Linked DNA regions of Homo sapiens: region 2 is linked to region 1. A link means that fine-mapping ties the variant in region 1 to the expression of a gene that starts in the linked region. Tissue or cell type: skeletal muscle. Region 1 holds a variant in brackets; the other region holds the start of a gene. All regions are shown on one strand. Distances are from middle to middle.

Region 1 (10,111 bases):
CTAAAAATACAAAAATTATCCAGGCGTGGTGGTGCACGCCTGTAATCCCAGCTACTCAGGAGGCTGAGGCAGGAGAGTCGCTTGAACCCGGGAGGCGGAGGTTGCAGTGAGCTGAGATCATGCCACTGCACTCCAGCCTGGCGACAGAGTGAGACTCTGTCTAACAAAAAAAAAAAAAAAAAAAAAAGAAAAGAAAAGAGGTTTAATTGACTCACAGTTTTGCCTGGCTGGGGGGGCCTCAGGAAACTTTTAATCATGACAGCAGGGGAAGAGGCACATCTTACACGGCGGCAGATGAGAGAGAGCAAGCAAGAGCAGGGAAAACAGCCTTATAAGACCATCAGATCTCCTGAGAACTCACTCACTATCACAAAAACAACACGGGGGAAACTGCCCCCACGATCCAATCACCTCCACCAAGCCCCTCCCTCACCACGTGGGGATTATGGGGATTACAATTCAAGATGAGATTTGGGTGGGGTTTGGGTGGGAACACAGCCAAACCATATCACATCCCCTCCCAAGAAGCCCTTTTCCAGCTGACCACAAAGAAACTCTGTCCTGATCAGTTGCCTGATTGGGCCACCTGCTCATCCCACTCCCTGATACTGGTTCTTTTTTTTTTTTTTTTTTTTTTTTTTTTCTTTTCTGAGACAGAGTTTCGCTCTTGTTGCCCAGGCTGGAGTACAATGGTGGTGCAATCTCAGCTCACTGCAACCTCCGCCTCCCGGGTTCAAGCGATTCTTCTGCCTCAGCCTCCCAAGTAGCTGGGATTACAGGCATGCACCAACCATGCCCAGCTAATTTTGTATTTTTAGACGAGTTTTCACCATGTTGGTCAGGCTGGTCTCAAACTCCTGACCTCAGGTGATCCTCCCACCTTGGCCTCTCAGAGTGCTGGGATTACAGGCATGAGCCACCGCACTCAGCCGATACTGGTTCTTTTTAACATTGTTTACTACTACCAAAAAAAGAAAAACCCTTTTCTGCCTGACCTTTCAAAAGCTTGCAGATCTTATGGTTGAAGCATTCTATTAGAATGCCGTCCCTCCCCTATTGCGACATTCTCTTTTTCTATTGCAATAATCCTTCTAAATAAAGTCTCTCCTTACCTAGATCTGGATTTGGTTTTTATTTGACAGTTCTCATTGCTGTGATCCAGCTCAAGACTGGAACTCACCTAGGGACCTCCACCAGCCCCACCCAGGTAAAGGTGCCATGTTCAGGACTTGAGGACTCTTGGGTGAGTTCAAGTCTTGAACCAGTGCTCTGGCCATCTTGTCTGTTGAAGAACAGTAAGAGGTTACTTTGATTGTTTCAGGCAAAGAGATGCTTTGGCCCTCCTGTGAGACTTCTGTGTTTCCTCAGCTCCTCGACCTGGGGATTGTTCAAGGGAATTAATCAAGTGGGAGTTTTTCTTGGCTCCTTTAAAGACTTTTCTTTGGGCTGACTATCCACTAATGCCATGGGTAACTCTCACTCTATCAGATGCCCTCCTCTTCCCCCACTGAGTACCTGCTATTATGGCACTAATTCAGTTTAATAGCCTCAAAAATGGCACAATTTACTAAAGGTAACCTAGAACCTCAAAGGCCTCTTTGGGAAACATGAGATCTCCTTAAACCAGCTCATCTAAGACTTCTCCCTTCCCATCATCCTCATCCCTCCTTTTTACCACTTTAAACCTTCTCTTTTGTTGCCTTGAATGATTTAATCTGTCCACCTCCTTCACCCATCTACCCATTCCTACACACCTTTTCCTACCCACTCCAGCTCCTCAACTCATGGTCACTCAAGATTAGGCCTCCCTTCTGTTCTGACCACCTTCTCTTCACAGCACTGGTGAAGCAGGGATCTCCTGTGCTAAACAGGAGATGGCTGAACAGATGACACCCAATACTGGGCAGATGAGATTGGCTACAGTTTTTTCAGTTACATACTCACAGCCTAAGGGGTGAGGAGGTTATTGCATGCCAGGCAGAGCCACATGGGAATTGCATTTGAAAGCAGACTGAAGCAGCAGGGGCTGTGTGAGGCAGGCTTTGTAGTAATGGCACAAGAGTGAGGTAACCTTTTATTCCACGGGAGGATGTAATTGGCTTGTTCAAATAGTTCTGTGGGCTGGCAGGTAGGTAAAGCTCCTTAGATTGAAGATTAAGTAGGGTACAGCTGGTCTGGCTGAAGGGGAAACTAGCTGGGTAGGGAGCCCTTCCCACTTCGGGGGTGATATGGTTTCGATCAGTGTCCCTGCCCAAATCTCATATCGAATTGTAGTCCCCAGTTGTGGAAGTGGGGCCTGATGGAGTGTGATTGAATCCTGGAGGCGGTTTCTAATGGTTTAGCACCATCCCTTTGGTGCTGTCTTGTCATGGAGTTCTCATGAGATCTGGTTGTTTAAAAGTATGTGGCACCTCCTCCCTGCCTCTCCTCCCCCTGCTCCAGCCGTGTAAGATGTACCTGCTTCCCCTTCAACTTGCATCATGATTGTAAGTTTCCTGAGGCCTCCCAAGCCATGCTTTCTGTGCAGCGTACAGAACTGTGAGCCAATTAAACCTCTTTTCTTTATAAATTACCCAGTCTCAGGTAGTTCTTTATAGCGATACAAGAATGGTCTAATATAAGTACCTAGATCATTTCTAAGTAAGATAGACTAGTGGAGCATAATTTAAAGCTTATGTAAATTTTTTTTAGTACAGAGAGGCTAAATATATTTTGGTCTGCTAATGATGTGTTCATTCTTGCCACACTGAAAAGTTGTACAGGCCAGGTGCAGTGGTTCACACCTGTAATCCCAGCACTTTGGGAGGCCAAGGTGGGTGGATCACCTGAGGTCAGGAGTTTGAGATCAACCTGACCAACATGGTGAAACCCCATCTGTACTAAAAATACAAAAATTAGCTGGATGTGGTGGCAGGGGCCTGTAATCCCAGTTACTCGGGAGGCTGAGGCAGGAGAATCACTTGAAGCCAGGAGGTGGAGGTTGCAGTAAGCCGAGATCACACCATTGCACTCCAGCCTGGGCGACAGAGAGAGACTCCATCTCAAAACAACAACAACAACAACAAAAAAAAAAAAAAAAAAGAAAGAAAGAAAAGAAAAGAAAAGTTGTACTATAAGGAAGTGTATGGCTATAAAAAAGTCACAAGATATATAACCTTAAGCTTGACTAGTCTGCTACAATATGCTGGTATATGACAGACAGCTAATTATCTACTTCATAGTTTTCTCTGTAGGTATATTACTTTGCTAGGTCTGTCAACAAAGTACCATAGACTGGTACTTTAAACAACAGAATTTTGTTTTCTCACAATTCTGGAGGCTGGAAGTCCAAAATTGAGTGTCAGCAGAGTTGGGCTTTTTCTGAGGCCTCTCTCCTTGGCTTGTAGATGCCAAGATTAATATTTCTTTGGCCTTTTATATTAAAACTTTTAATTAACATTTATCTTTTTAATGGTAGGCATTCCTCATTTTAAGATACCTGACCCTTAAACAACTGATTTTTGCCACCACCTTTCAACAGATGCTTCAGCTGGTTTTGTGGGAACAACACCAACCAGAGTCCCCAGGAGACCGTTTCTTAGTCCCTGACTCACCCCATGTAGGAGGCTTAGGATTGCATCTGAATTGCTCAGTGGTGAATAATATTCTTTTATCATTAACAAAAGGGAGGTCAACAGTGTTGATCTTTGCCAGAGCCTTGTTTTTCTGAAAAATAGCACTGGCTAAAGAGCTCTCCTCATCCTTTTATGATAGCCACCCATCCTCTTCTTGCAATAATCCTTTTGAATAAAGTCTCCCCTTGCCTAAATCCAGATTTATTTTGACAAATGCTACAAAATTAGTTTTGAATTGTTTTAGAAATTTAATCAAATTACATTGAAAAGAACATGAGGAAGACATAAAAGAGTAAGGTACTACTTTCAAAGCATGGAGAAAGCAAATTCAATCATAAATGTACTGTCCAGGAAAAAAAGAAAGTGTGGCTCCTAAGCATGCAAATTCCAGGTAGAGTAAAGCCTGAAATATGTTTCTAAAACCCATACATGTAAGTTCTTTAATGTTTTTAAAAAGAAACAGGTTGATCCCTTTTAAGAGCAGGCAGCATTTCTCAGAATGGCAACAAAGCTAAAATCACACACAAAATAGTTTGATATAGTTAATACATTAAAGTGTTAAATGTATGCATAACAAAATATATCATAAACAAAGTTAAAAGTCAACAAACTAGAAAATATATGCAATAGTATGTAAGCAAAAATTAATTTTTCAAATAAAGGGGTGTTTACGTAAAAATATGCACCAGGTGAAAAATGGGCAAAGGGCATGATAAGATACTTCACTAAAGAAGAAATCCACATAAAAAGATGCTCAATTTCAATAGGAATTGAAGAAAAGCAAATTAAAACTACAAATCACTTTTTACCTATCAGATTGGCAAAGTTGAAAAAGATTGATAAACATAATATAGATGAAGGTGTAGGAATACAGACTCCTGTGCTGCTCTCTGTTGTAGAGATTTCTACAAACTTTCTAGAAGGCATTTGGACAACATGGATACTTATGGACAACTATTCATCTAGGAATTTATCCTATGTAGGAAATTTTACAAATACACAAAGATTTCAGAATCGAAACACTGTAAACAATGTAAGGGTTGTTAAAAAATAATTTTCAGAGAAAGATAAAATCATGACTCATACAAATATAAAAGTGCACATCTGTTAAGGAATTTACGCATATGCTATAAGGGAATCAGATGTACGTTATAAACATTTCAAAGGAAAAGTCAAAAAGCACAGATTTATCTGGAGTAAAGGAATGTTAAGATGAATTGCAAATGGAAACAAAACTGGTATTTTCATAGGGTGGG[G/A]ATGGCGGGAACCAATTAAATTATTGCCAGACAGGACAGAATTTACACACCATCAGTTACATATAATTTATAAAAAGAGGCGAATAGGGCCGGGCGCAGTGGCTCACACCTGTAATCCCAGCACTTTGGGAGGCTGAGGCTGGTGGATCACTTGAGGTCAGGAGTTTGAGACCAGCCTGGCCAAAACGGCGAAAACCTGTCTCTACAAAAAATACAAAAAATTAGCTGGGCGTCTGTAATTCTAGCTACTTGGGAGGCTGAGGCATGAGAATCACTTGAGCCCAGGAGGCAGAGGTTGCAGTGAGCCGAGATCACACCATTGCACTCCAGCCTGGGTGACAGGGTGAGACTCTGTCTCAAAAACAAAACAAAACAAACAAAAACGAAAAGGTTTATTTTGTTTGCATATGTAAGCTTCACAGAAAAAAAGTGAAAATCCCAAAGAGGTGCTTAGACCCAGGAGCTTATACAGCATTTTAACAGAGGATGATAAAGTGTGGGAAGCTACTAGACAAGGGAAATGGGGAGAGGCTGCGCTTCTCTGGTGTGGGTAAATTGTGGGAAGGTAACTGGGAAAGGCATGGTAATTAAGGCTTGTTTAGTGAGGTGTGTTATGCAGATGAATTGTTCACCTTATTCTGGTATGGGAGAGGGCATCACCTTTGCAAAGGGAAATTAGGCAAACGTTTGTAGGTAGAAAGAGAGAGGGCAAAGAGTTTTGCTTGTGTCTGCTGTTTCTCAGTTGCCTTTAGCTCAAAATAATCCTTATGCCAATATGGCATGTTTTGAGGTGGCACATTCTTTTTTACTTTTACTATTATCATTTTATTTGCTTGTTTTTTTTTTTGTTGTTTTTTATAGAGACAGGGTCTTGTTTGTTGTTGCCCAGGCTGGAGTGTGGTAGTGTGATCATACCTCACTGTCATCTTGAACCAAGTAGCTAGGACTACAGGTACACACTACCCCGCCCCGCTAATTTATTTTATTTTGTTTTTGGTAGAGACAGGGTCTTGCTTTATTGCCCAGGCTGGTCTCAAACTCCTGGCCTCAAGGGATCTTCTCACTTCAGCCTCCCAAAATGCTGGGATTATAGGCCCTGCCACCATGCCCAGCCTGGGGTGGCATATTCTGATCCCTTTCCCATTGTTTCAGAAAGATGTTTCCATTTTGGAAAAACATAAAATAAATGAACAAATAATAGTAAATTTAGCATTTCTGTCCAAAAGAAAATGACATGTACAGTGAGCAGATGCCCATCAGGGTGTTTACCAGCAAAAACAAGTTAAAAGAAGTACCTGTCTGAATGGATCAACAAATTGCAGCATATCATATTAAAATAATGGAATGACATTTAAGAAAGCAAAATTGATTCACACTTCAACATGGATGAATCTCCAGACCTTATGTGGAGATAAAGATGCCAAACACGAAAGAGTACAGACCGTTTGATTCATGTTTATGTATCTGAAATTCTGGAAGAGGCAAATCTAATCTATAGTGACAGAAAGGAGAGCAGTTGTTGCTGGGGCTGAGTGTGGGGAGAGGAGGGCATTTGCTTTTTGGGGTGATAGAAATGTTCTTTATCTTGATTGTGGTAATAATTGCCTGGGTTAGTAGGTTGGTCAGAAGTCATGGAACTATACACCTAAACAGCTATATTTTATTAAACCATGCCTCAATAAGATTTTTTTGCTGCTGTTGTTGTTTTGAGGTGGGGTCGTACTCTGCAACCCAGGCTGGAGTGCAGTGGCATGATCACAGCTCACTGTAGCCTCAGTCTTCTGGGCTCAAGCCATCCTCCCACCTCAGCCTCCCAAGTACCTGGGACTACAGGTACGTGCCACCACACCTGGCTAATTTTTGTATTTTTTGTAGAGATAGGGTTTCACCATGTTGCCCAGGCTGGTCTCAAACTCCTGGGCTTAAGTAATCCGCCTGCCTCGGGCTCCCAGAGTGCTTGGATTACAGGCGCGAGCCACCGCGCCTGGCTGTGTGTATATATATATATAAAGTGTCTGTTAGTAAAGACTAGAGGGGTAAACAGAAAGCAGACAGCATGTGTTGAGCAAAATCTGGACTCGCTGAGTTTGCAGTGATGATAAACTTTCAGAGTAGAGGCTCTCCAGGCTTCTCAAAGTATTCCTGGACTCAGTGATTCCTATCTGGAAGCCATCTGGACAAAGACGGCTGGCACAGCCATGCCACTAAATGCACTCTTTTGAGGGTAAGAGTGCATAGAAGTTGTGAGGCATTTTCAGTTTCAGGAATCCAGCACAGCAAAGGAAGATGACAGGGTCAGGGCGTACTGGACACAGGGATTGTGGACTGACATGCTAAAGAAGACGGATGAGCCAGGGGGCTCACAGAGTTTTTTTAAAGCTGAGCACCAAAATGCCTATGCTAAATGAACAAGAATGTTCTAGATATAAAAATTATTTAATAAACATCCTCCATACTGACTTGTAAATATTGCGTGAAGTGTGGCAGAGGCCCCCTCTGGTGGTAGTGTGCAAAATCACATGTATAACTATAAAAAAGTTAAGAAATAGGGTGAAAATCAGTCCTAGTGTTTACATACATTAGATGTTAGAGGTATATACTAAAGAGGCAGTTTAGGCTGGGCACAGTGGCTCATGCCTGTAATCCCAGCACTTTGGGAGGCTGAGGCAGCCCGATCGCTTAAGCCCAGGAGTTTAAGACCAGCCTGGGCAACATGGTGAAACCTCTCTCTACAAAAAAATAAAAATAAAAATTAGCTGGGGCGTGGTGGTGCACACCTATGGTCCCAGCTATTAAGGAGGCTAAAGTGGAAGGATTGCCTGAGCCCGGGAGGTTGAGGCTGCAGTGAGTGGTGATCAAGCCACTGCACTCCAGCCTGGGTGAGAGTGAGATCTGTCTCCAAAAAAGAAAAAGAAGAAAAAGAAAAAAAGAAAAGGAAGAAGCAATTCAGCAATATCCACATACCATCCATATCTGTTCTTTTTTTTTTTTTTTTTTTTTTTTTTTTTGACACAGGGTTTCACTCTGCCCAGGATGTAGTGCAGTGGCACGCTCCCAGCTCACTGCAGCCTCAATCTCCTGGGCTCAGACAATCCTCCTACCTCAGCCTCCCAAGTAGCTGGGATTACAGGTGGACGCTACCATGCCCAGTTAATTTTTGTATTTTTTGTAGAGATGAGGTATCACCATGTTGGCCACGTTGGCCTCAAACTCCTGGACTCGAGTGATCTGCCCGTCTCAGCCTCCCAAAGTGCTGGGATTACAGGCATGAGCCACTGTGCCCAGCCTAAACTGCCTCTTTAGTATGTACCTCTAACATCTAATGTATGTAAACACCAAGCCACTATGCTTGGCCCATATATGTTCTTTACTTTGCTTCTTCTCACTTAACACGTTTGGAAAATCATTCCATATTAGTTTATATAAAGCCTCTTTGTTCTTTTCAGTGTCTATCCAGTACGGGGCTATGCCATGATATTCAAATAGTTCCCTAATGGCCATTCCAGTTGTTTCCAGTTTTTTGCTATTATAAACAATGCTACAGTGAATGTCTTCACACATATATAAAACATATGTGTAGTATTAATTGCCGTAAGTGGTATTGCTTGGTCAAAATGTATGTGCATTTAAAAAGTTGATAGGTCTCACCCTCTGTGTGGGGGAAGATGATTGGCAATAGATACCATCAGACACAGGCAAAAGAAACAAGTTCCTTAGACCTTGATAAAGGATAGGAGAATTTAAACTCTAAGAAGATTGCATGGAGCGGGAGTTTTGGCAGCCGTCTTTTCCACAAGGGCAAACTTCCCTGGGTGCTGTGTGCTGGCTCCCATCAGCTTCTGCAAAAACTCTCCTTGTCTTACACCCTCTATATGTTCTGGAGACCCTGGCTATGTTCCTGACCAGAGAAGGGCACTGGAGTCACTCCAGTGCATTCCTGCATAATCTCTGCAAGGGAGACTTGAAGGTCAGTTTCCCAGGGTAAATTTTCTAGATAGATGATCCCCTAGGAACTCCCAGGCCTTAAGCTTCCTGATGACTCTTCATGTCTTCCACAGAGAAATTGTTCCAATTTACATTCTCACCAGCAATGTGTGACTTCCTGTTTCCCCCACACACTCACCAACAGAGCAAATTATCACAGGTTTTAAAAATAATATTTATTGATTTATTTAGGAAATGGGGTCTTGCTCTGTTGCCCAGGCTGGAGTCCAGTGGTGTAATTGACCACAGCTCACTGCAGCTTCAAACTTCTGGGCTTAAGAGATCCTCCCTCCTCAGCCTCTTGAGTAGCTGGAACAGGCACACACCACCATGTCTGGCTAATTTTCGTATTTTCTATTTTTTATAGAGACAGGAGTCTCACCATGTTGTCCAGGCTGGTCCCGAACTCCTGACCTCAAGCATTCCTTCCACCTTGGCCTCCCAGATTGCTGGGATTACAGGTGTGAGCCACCCCACCTAGCCACAGTTTTTATCTTTGCCAATTCTAATAAGTAAAAACTGAGGGAGGCCAAGGCGGGAGGATCGCTTGAGCTCGGGAGTTCGAGACCAGCCTGGCCAACATGTTGAAACCCCATCTCTACCAAAAAAGAAATACAAAAATTAGCTGGGCTTGGTGGTACATGACTGTAATCCCAGCTACTCGGGAGGCTGAGGGACAAGAATCGCTTGAGCCCAAGAGGTGGAGTTTGCAGTGAGCCGAGACTGAGCCACTGCACTCCAGCCTGGGTGAAAGAGTGAGACTGTCAAAAAAATAAATAAATAAATAAGGAAAGGAAAACCTGAAACAAAGAGTTTAAACTTTACATTGCTCTCATGTGTAAGGTACCACATCTTTTCATACAGTGATAATGAGAGATACATGTGTCTATATTCCTAGTAAAGCCAACCCTTCCACTGGGGCACCTGATCCTCATTCCAGGTATAACATCCTCTGATGTTATACTTGAGAACATCATCCGAGCAATTCTTTCTTCTGCAACTTCAACTTTTTTTCTCTCCACAGAATCGTTCCTATCAGCATGCAAAAATGTTATTTCTCCTTTTGACAACCCTTTCTTGAACGCCTTCCTCCTTAGCTACTGCCCTAATTCTCTACTTATAGCAGAGCTTTCCTTTTCTGGAAAGGGCCAGATAGTAAATATTTGAAGTATGGTGGGCTATTTATTCTCTCACAACCTCTTACCTGTGTCCCTCTAGTGTGACAGCAGCCACAGACAGCACGTAAATGAACAGGTG
Region 2 (10,111 bases), 56 kb after region 1:
GAAGCCATGGCTCCCGGAAGGCTGCCTGGATCTGGTTAGTGAAGGTTCCAGGAGTGAAGTGGCCAGCAATTGGAGTGGCTCCAGTGGCAGCAGCAAACTTCAGCACAGCCCTCTGGCCAGTATTCCTGGAGGATATAACACTGACATCAGCAGGGTTTTCAATGGCAACAATAGCACTAGCTGCCAGCAGAAGCTTCTCCCAGGTCCTCTTCAGATTTATGATATAGATGCCATTACTTTTCCTTTTACAGATGTACTGTTCCATCTGGAAGTCAAGATTGGTGCCACCTAAGTGGGTTCCTGCTGCAAGGAACTTAAGGACATCCTCCTCCTTCATTTGCAGGACATCAAGGGCTCCGGACATTGTGAAAGTTTCCCTTTAAGTTACGACGGGAATCCAGAACAACGCCGTATGGGCCCCTCTGTAGGTAGCGCGGAAAGCAAAAACAAATAGGTTTTTGTGTGGATAAAAGTTTTCACCTCATTTGATTAAATATAAGTGAGCACAATTTCTGGATAACATAGTAAAAGTACGTTTAGTTTTATAAGAAACTGCCATATTATCTTCCAAGGGGCTGTACCATTTTGTATTCCCACCAACAATGAATGAAAGTTCCTGTTGCTCTACATGGTTGCCAGCATTTGGTGTTGTCAGTGTTCTGAATTTTGGCCATTCTAATTGGTATATAGTAGTATCTCATTGTTGTTTTAATTTGTATTTCCCTCACGATATATGATGTTGAACATCTTTTCATATGCTTATTCAGATCTTTTGCTCATTTTTTAATTGAGTTGCTTATTTTCTTATTGCTGAATTTTAAGAATTCTTCAGATTCATTTTTCATTGCTTACTTAGAATAAGCCTTCTTTTCCCTCACAAGCTGCCAGTTCTACTTTCTCTTTAGTCTTATTTGTGATCCTTCTTTCTACAGAGACAAATTAAACCAGAGAAGTGGACTCTTTCCCTACAGGCAGCTGAAAGGATGTGCAAGTGCAGTTCAGAGGGGGAAATAAAAAACACGTTTTAGAATACTTCCTTGGTTAAAAGCAGTAAGTTTGGCAAAGACACATAGACTCTCAACTCTAGATTTACTGAGAATGCTAGGTAGCATATTTTTGGAGTCAAATGAAGAAGAAAAATTATAAATCCTATAGCCTACAGAATAATTATTGAATTATTTGAAGCATATGCTTTGGCCTCTGAAGCAAGGTGGAGGGGTCTGCTTTGATCAACAGATTGAGTACTTGATGGGAGTTCTTAGAAGTACAACTCTTGGAGGGTTTATTCTTCAGTCAGAGGGGAGGAGCCATTGAACGCTATTGAGCGGTGGTGGAAAATGATCAGAATTCTTCCTTCTTGGGAGGCCGAGGAAGGTGGATCACTTGAAGCCAGGAGTTCCAGAACAGCCTGGCCAACATGATGAAACCCTGTCTCTATTAAAAATGCAAAAATTAGCCGGGCGTGGTGGCATAAACCTGTAGTCCCAGCTACTCGGGAGGCTGAGGCAGGAGAATCACTTGAGCCCGGGAGGTGGAGGTTGCAGTGAGCCGAGATTGCGCCACTGCACTCCAACCTGAGTGACAGAGTGAGACTCTGGTTCAAAAAAAAAAAAAAAAATTCTTTCTTCTATATCCTATGCTGATAACACAGTAATTACCCATATGACTTGACATGTAAATGGTAGTTTTAAAGATTGGAGCCTGACTGCTCCATCTTAAACATTCTACAAGACTCTCCTTTTTTTTTTTAAATCTATCTATTTATTTATGTATTATTTATTGAGAAGGAATCTTGCTCTGTCACTCAGGCTGGAGTACAATGGAGCAATCTCGGCTCATAGCAACCTCCGCCTCCTGGGTTCAAGCGATTCTTCCGCCCCAGTCTCCCGAGTAGCTGGGATTACTGGCATTCACTGCCATGCCTGGCTAATTTTTGTATTTTTAGTAGAGACCGAGTTTTGCCATGTTGTCCAGGCTGGTATTGAACTCCTGGCCTCAGGTGATCCACCTGCCTCGGTCTCCCAAAGTGCTGGGATTACAGGCAAGAGCCACTGCGCCCGGCCTATTTATTTTTTTAGTGACCGTGTCTTGCTTTGTCATTAGGCTGGAGTGCAGTGGTTCAATCACAGCTCACTGCTGCCTCAAATTCTGGGGCTCAGGCGATCCTCACTCCTCAGTTTCCCAAGTAGCTGGGGCTATAGGCACGAGCCACCACCACCTGGCTGAGACAGAGTCTCGCTCTGTTGCCCCATATGGAGTGCAGTGGCGTGATCTCCAGCTCACTGCAACTGCCGCCAGGTTCGAGCGACTCTTGTGCCTCGGCCTCCAGGGTATCTAGGACCACAGGTGAGCGCCACCACTCCCGGCTAATTTTTGTATTTTTTGTAGAGACGGGGTTTCACCATGTTGCCCAGGCTGGTCTCCAACTCCTGAGCTCAAGTGATCCACCGGCCTCAGCCTCCCAAAGTGCTGGGATTACAGGCATGAGCCACTGTGCCAGGCCCTGGCTGATTTTTAAAATTTTCTTTCTTATTTTCTCCTCTTCTTTTCTTTCCCCTTTCTTCTTTTTTTTCTTGTTTCTTTTCTTTTCTTTCTTTTTTCTCTCTTTCTTACTTATTTTTATTTTAAAATTTTTGGATAGACGGAAGTCTCCCTATTTTGCCCAGGCTGGTCTTGAACTCCTCAGCTCAAGAGATCCGCTCACCTCGGTCTCCCAGAGTGCTGGGATTACAGGCGTAAGCCACCATGCCCCGCCCATTTTTATACGTTTAGGTTAATGCTTTCCAACAAAGCTGATGAGAGGATTACATGAGACAGTGTGAAAAATACTTAGCATTTTCTCTATTCTTAAAACCACCCCTCCTCATTTACCTCCTATGATTCATTTAATTATTTTATCTCATTTAATTCTCATACCTTCTTGCAACCTAGGGCTTAGTGGCGTAAGACCCAGGGATGATTTATCAAGTTCTCACCTCCAGGCTTTTCTTATTAGGTGTATCACTGCTGATGAAGTTAAAAATATACCATTCTTGCATATTGACTATTTTGAATTAAAAGCACTTGAAAAACAATAGATACAAAAAAATCATTCTGACCTCTTTTCTGTTTCTTAGAAGCAGATGAAATTACCATATGAGAGACATCCTCCCTATATTAGAAGGAATGCAGCACTCTTATTAAGGACGGGAGTCAAGAGTGAGAGAATCCTGTACACACCTTGCTAAAATAACTCTTAAGCCTCTCCAGATAACTTAATTGCTTTTCACAACTTGCTATTACTACTCTTACTACCGGTATTACTATTATCGTTATTCTCATTATTCTTTGTTTAATTCCGTATAGATAAGTAACTGACCATAATTGCTTCTTTGGGTCCTTCTCTCCCTTCCCTTCCCTTTTCTTCCCTTTCACTTTCCCTTCCCCTTTCCTTTCCCTTCCCTCCCTTCCTTCTTCTTCTCTAGTTCTTTTAAGGGGTGAGGGTGTCTCACTGTGTCGCCCAGTCTGGAGTGCAGTGGCGTTATCATAGCTCAGTGCAGCCTCGACCTCCTGGGCTCAATCAATCCTCCCGCGTCGGCCTCTCAAACTACTGGGAATACAGGCGTGAGCCACCAAGCCTGGCCTAGAACATAAATTTAATATCAGGTAAATCTTATCAGAGATGCATACATGTAAGGTAGAAAGAGACTACACGGTCTGCACAGAATTTTATACAAATGTATAGAGCAAAAAAGAAAAAAATTAAACTTCTCTGGATTCCATTGATTAAAAATTTAAAAAAATAAATAAAAAACTTCTTTGTCTTCGAGACGTTAAGAGGATGCACCTTCTTATAACCTTGCACCCTGCATATCCTGTGAGTGAGCCCAGAGCTACTTCCCTAGGAGCGTGCGTATTTACAGTTCCGAGGGTACGAAGGCCTCTATCTGCATTGCAGTAGAGGGACGGCCTGTTATCGGGCTTGTGAAATTGTCAAGAAGACAGCCTGGAGGGGACAGTCACCGCCCATGTCGGTAACCTTCCACTAGTCTCTGGGGTTAACAGCGTCACAGACAGGGACTTCTCCCTTGGAGCTTACATTCGAATATATTAATAACTCCAGAACGTGGTCAGTGGTCCTGGAGGACGACCGCTTCTGGTAGGGCGGCCAGGAAAAGCCTCTGTGAAGAGGCGATCTTTGAGCTGAATTTTGGAGCTTTAATAAATACTTAAAGAGCGAACGGAACGAGCGATGCCTGACGTTCAACCCAGCGGTTGCCAAGGAGCTAAAGAGCGTCTCACTTTGGCTTCCGGATTGTTATGAACAGGAGGAAGGAGAAAAAAAAACCAGAATTGTTCGAGAATTGTGCTTTCGCGGCTCTCAGGCTGAAAACGGGGTTTCCACATTAGTTCCCATCGCCAGGGGCTGAAACGAAGCCCGGGATCCAGACATTAGGCGCCTGGGGCGGGAGCCTGCAGCGGGAGCTTGCGGCGGGAGCCGGGCGAGGCAGCGGCGGGGCGGGGCCATGATGGGGCGGGGCTACGGAAGCCGAGCGGGCTCGAGGCGTTCGGCTGAGGAAGGGAGCGCACGCCGGCGGCGCGGAGGCCGGCTCTGCGCTTCGGGCCGCCCCCTCCCCCCACCCCGCTCACACCCGGCACTTACTTCGGCTGTCTCCGCTGCCCTCCAGCGGAGACGCAGCTCCTCAGGCGCCCGGCGGTATTTGTTGGGTCGGCGGCGTCAGGGATTCGCAGTGGCCTGTGGTCGGCGTCGTCCGGCCACTGGTGCGCCCCCGCGGCAGGCAGAGCTCACGCTCCTGTCCCCCGGCTGGTCCGGGGTCTGGGCGCCGCGTCGACGGCGGCTCCGCAGGACGCGCAGACCGGGCCGCAGCCCATTCCCCGAGCGGACTGCATTATGAGGCACCTGCCTTACTTCTGCCGGGGTCAAGTGGTGCGGGGCTTCGGCCGCGGCTCCAAGCAGCTGGGCATCCCCACAGGTGAGAGCAGGGCGGCCAGAGTCCCCCGGGCCGGGTCACGTGGGGAGCGGGGAGAGACGGCAGCCGGGGACTTGGGACCGGGGCGTGGGGCCTCCGGACCGCGGGCAGAGAGCACACCCTTCCTCCTCCCGCATCCCCTTGTCTGTGGCGGAGGACCGTTGGCTCGGTTGAGGGAGCTTGTCCCTGCTTCTGGCTCCGAGCTCCGCGGGGACGGGGTTGAGGGGTGGTGAGGGCCGGAAGCCCGAGATGAATCGCAGGATTCCCCGTTCACGCCTCCTTGGCCAGCCAAGGTACAGTTGGTCAAGCATTGCGCTTGTCTTGCCCATTAGAGACGTAACGTGGGCCAGAACGGCTGAACTCGCAAGCCGGGTCTAAGGTGGTTTTGTTTTTAATTTGTAATTATGTAATGTCCAAATGATAACATAGGTAGTTGAATGAGAGTCAGCTAACCTTCTTGGTCTGTCTACATTAATTTCAATAATCGAGACCTGACTGTAATTCATCCTTAGAAATACATGCCAGAGCTGCGTCTTGACTTGTTAAGTCAGCCTTGAGCTTGTGTATTTGAAAAATAAGAAGCTTTGGCCGGGCGTGGTGGCTCACGCCTGTAATCCCAGCACTTTGGGAGGCCGAGGCGGGCGGATCATCTGAGCTCAGGAGTTCGAGATCAGCCTGGCCAACATGGTAAAACCCCGTCTCTGCTAAAAATACAAAAATTAGCTGGGCATGGTGGCGCGTGCCTGTCATCCCAGCTACTCGGGAACCTGAGGCAGGAGAATCGCTTGAACCCAGGAGACGGAGGCTGCAGTGAGGCGAGATCGTGCCACTGCCCTCCAGCCTGGGCGACAGAGTGAGACACCGTCTCAAAAAAAAAAAAAAAAGAAAGAAACTTTTCAGGTGATTCAGTACCTGGTTAGGAAAGAACAGATCTGAAAAAATCCATCTACTCTGGTACTTGTTTTTTGCATCCTACTCAAAGAGTATGGATTTTTTTGGAGAGCTTTATATACTTACCTGGTACTTTATTCATAACCTATTCACATGAATAGGAGAGGGAAATCTGAGCCGGAAAATGGAAGGATGGGATTGATACTTACAGGCAAAGTTGTAGGAGTCTTGTGAATGTAATGATTTACATTAGCCTTGCATGTGATTTTTACAAATGTTTGTTTCTTATTATTATTTTGAGACAGAATCTGGCTCTGCCACTCAGGCTGGAGTGCAGTGGTAGTGCGATCATAGCTTACTGCAGCCTCCATCTGCTGGGCTCAACTGACCCTCCTGCCTCAGCCTCTCTGGTAGCTTAGACTATAGGTGCAGGCCACCATCCCCAGCTAATTTTTTAATAGAGGTAAGATCTCACTATGTTACCCGGGCCGGTCTCAAACCCCAGAGCTCAACATGAGCCTCCTGCCTTGGCCTCTCAAAGTCCTAGAATTACAGACATGAGCCACTGCACTCGGCTACAGGCATTTAATACGAAATTTGTAAGACTCAAAATATTTTCTTCTGTTGTTTAGCTAATTTTCCTGAGCAAGTGGTAGATAATCTTCCAGCTGATATATCCACTGGTATTTACTATGGTTGGGCCAGTGTTGGAAGTGGAGATGTCCATAAGATGGTGGTGAGCATAGGATGGAACCCATATTACAAGAATACGAAGAAGTCTATGGTAAGCATTATATTTTGCTCTGTAACCGAAAATGGTATGATGACTTAGAATAATATATTACAGTATTCGTTACAGAAATAGCTTATCAGTGGTAATCACAACGTAGTTCAAATACTGGAATTTTGGGCAATCTCTGTCTTTTAATTGGAGAGTTTAATTCATTTACATTTAAAGTAATTTCTGATAAGGAGGGACATCTACTGTTTTGCTATTTGTTTTTTATATGCCTTATAACTTTTATGTCCCTCATTTCCTCTATTACTGCCTTTTGTGGTAGTGTGCTTTTTGTTTTGTTTTGTTTTGTAGTGACATTTTAATTCCTTTCTCATTGCTTTCTGTGTATTTCTATAGATACTGTCTTTGTGGTTACCATGGGGTTTATATTTAACATCCTGAAATTCTAAAAGTTTAATTTGAGTTTATACCAACTTAATTTCAATAGCATACAGAACTCAGAAATTGCATCTTTTTTTTTTTTTTTAAAGATGGGGTCTCACTATGTTGCCCAGACTGAAGTGCAGTAGCTGTTCACAGGCCAGGTTGTAGCACACTGTAGCTTCAAACTCATGGGCTCAAGTAATCCTCCTCCAGCCTCCAGAGAGCTGGGACTATAGGTACATGCCACTGCCTGCATCTGGCTCAGATTACATCCTTATACATTGTGGTACCCAATAACAAAGATTAATAATTGGTTTTTTTATGCATTTATTTTTTAAATTATGTAGAAAATAAAGAGTGGAGTTACAAACCAAAATTATAATACTGACTTTGATAATTGCTGTCTGTGAAAGACTCACTTGACCAAAGATAAAAATGATTTAAAAGCCTGTTTCATAAAATTGAGCTTGCCACAATTAATGCACTTCATTCACCATTTACTTCATGCATCAATTGCGCTTGGTCACCCTCTTAAGATAAAACAGTTTACTACATGGATGGTGGATGGAGGATGGTGCTTATTGATACAGTCCCACATTGGTGCTTTTCTCTTTCCTTTTTAAACCACCTGAGGGTATACTTTTCTGCCCTACTCTTTACAGGACCCCACAACTTCAGTGTTTTATCTGTTAGATTTGGCTGAATCTTTTGTCAGCTCAAATGTGTGGCAAAAACAAATTACAGTGAAGCTAAATTTTGTTCTGTGTGGAGTTAATAGAAGTGAAGTGTGTCACTGCTGGAAAACTACAGAGCTAAATGCTGGCGTAAGCAATAGTAATGACGCAGAAGTACTTAACATTTTGCTCAGTATTTCAGTTATTTTTCAGTATTAATGATTTGAAAATTATTTTTTGGAGACAAGGAAAACAATCGAAAGATCACAAAATACCATTCTGTTGAATGAGGAAGGAAAAGAAGGGGAGGGGACAATAGCCCATAACTAATTTGTCTTTAGCTACTTAGATAACAAAAATGTTATTATACAGCCAGTTAAGGAATGCCTTTTGAGTGTTAGGAAAAATTGAATTTGAAACATAGGCATATCTTACCAGTGGAAAATTGAACTTTTGCTTGCCTTTGCCAGTAACACACATCTGTGAAGTGCCTGTGCCAGACCTTTGTCCTTTAAAAAAAAAAAAAGCGTTATCTTACTGACCTTAAATAAGTTCTTAGTAACACATCTAGATCCACTTCCTTTGTTGGAACTGTGTATTGTTGTATTACAAATTTCTTTCATTGTGTGTGTGTGTGTGGTTTTTTTTTTTTTTTTCTCAATGGTGTGTTGAAGAACAGAGTTTTGTTTTGTTTTGTATTTTCAGATAGGGTCTTGCTCTGTCACCCAGGCTGCAGTGCAGTGGTGCAATCTCAGCTCACTGCAGCCTCAACTTTCTGGGCTGAAGTGATCCTCCCATCACAGCCTCCCGAGTAGCTAGGACCACAGGCATGTGCCACCATGCTTGGCTATTTTTAAATTTTTTTATAGAGATGAGATTTCAGCATGTTACACAGACTGGTCTCAAACTTTTGGGCTCAAGCAGTCCTCCTGCCTCAGCCTCCCAAAGTGCCAGGATTACAGGCATGAGCATGGCACCCAGCCCAGAGGTTCTTAATTTTAATACAATCCAGTTCAATATTTTTTTTATAGTTAGTGCTTTATATAATCTGTTTCAGAAATCTTTGACTACTCCAAAGTCATGAAGATACTTGTCTGTGGTTTTTTTCTAAAAGTTTAATTGACTGACATATCTTCAAATTGACTTTTTTAGTATGGTATCTGATAGGGATTTAAATTAATATTTTTTTCCATATGGATGTAGAATTGACCCAGCCTATTCATTGAAAATACCATGCTTTCACAACAGTGCTGTAGTGTCACCTGGGACATAAATCAAGTGACCTTATATGTGTGTGAGTCCAAAAATTCACATACATACTTGGTTTGCTTGTCTTATCATAGGTCTTGATACCTAGTTGTATAAGCCCTCTAGTTTTGTTCTCAAGATTTTCATGAATAATTTTGGTTTTTCCATATAAATTTTAGAATCACTTGTCAGTTTCTCCTATTTTAAAAAACCTGCTAGGATTTTGATTGGGGCAGCATTGAATTCGTAGATTACTTTGGGAAGTTTGCCATTTCTCTCAATAATGTCTTGTAATTGTCAGTGTCAGGGTCTTACATATTTTTTAAAATTATTTTTAAATTTTTTTTTGAGATGGAGTCTTCGCTCTGTCGCCAAGGCTAGAGTGCTGGAGTGCAGTGGTGTGATCTTGGCTCACTGCAACCTCCGCCTCCTGGGTTTGAGCAATTCTCCTGCCTCAGCCTCCTGAGTAGCTGGGACTATAGGCATGCGCCACCATGCCCAGCTAATTTTTGTGTTTTTAGTAGAGTACCGGGTTCCACCATGTTGGCCAAGCTGGTCTTGAACTCTTGACCTCAAGTGATCCTCCTGGCTCCGCCTCCCAAAGTGCTGGGATTACAGGCATGAACTACTGCACCCAACCAGTCTTACATATCTTAGTTTCTTTTTTATTATTCAAATGTTTACTGAAAAGAAAGAATATATTGGTTCATAGCCCCAAAGTCATGGGGCACTTTATGTATCTTCTAACTCAAGCCGCCCCCCACCCATTACAGACGAGAAAACTGAGCCCCGCGGAAGCTAGTTATACAGTTAACCAAGTGTGGGAACCCAGACTTTTGACTCTAAGTCAGTGCTCTTAACCTCTTAACCACAGTACTGCCCAGATGATTTAGCTGAACTAGATTCTGAGGCACTTTCTACGTCATGCGGCATTTTGCTTTAATGTGCTGTGTACCCTTTTGCCACTTTACTCCCTGATCAGGAAGCTGCATTGGCTCTCCTGCCCCTTCAGTCCTCAGCTCTGCCAAACTCTGAAGTTTCCATACATGTTGTGTGTCAGACGTGTGCAAATGCTGACTGACCTTAACAACTAGTTGTTTAGTAGTAACATCTTTTAATACTTTGCTCATTCCCTCTTTGGTGTCCTGTTTTCTCACCTTGATAAG

The links.
Region 2: it holds the start of RFK, and the variant in region 1 is fine-mapped to the expression of RFK in skeletal muscle (GTEx, PIP 0.95).

The regions. Positions count from the first base shown.
Region 1 is chr9:76,444,919-76,455,029 of GRCh38, reverse strand. It overlaps a transcript of GCNT1 not described here. Among named protein-coding and RNA genes, the nearest start is that of GCNT1, 9.2 kb to the left of the region's middle. The variant G/A (reference allele first, on the strand shown) is at 4,871.
Region 2 is chr9:76,388,952-76,399,062 of GRCh38, reverse strand. RFK (riboflavin kinase) reads left to right here and starts at 4,637. Exons shown (of 4, transcript NM_018339.6): 1 at 4,637-4,973; 2 at 6,494-6,645. The coding sequence starts at 4,892. It also overlaps a transcript of GCNT1 not described here and the pseudogene RPSAP9. RefSeq lists enhancers at 3,979-4,218, 4,396-4,690, 4,553-5,366 and silencers at 4,499-4,558, 4,579-4,658, 4,699-5,188, 9,716-10,010.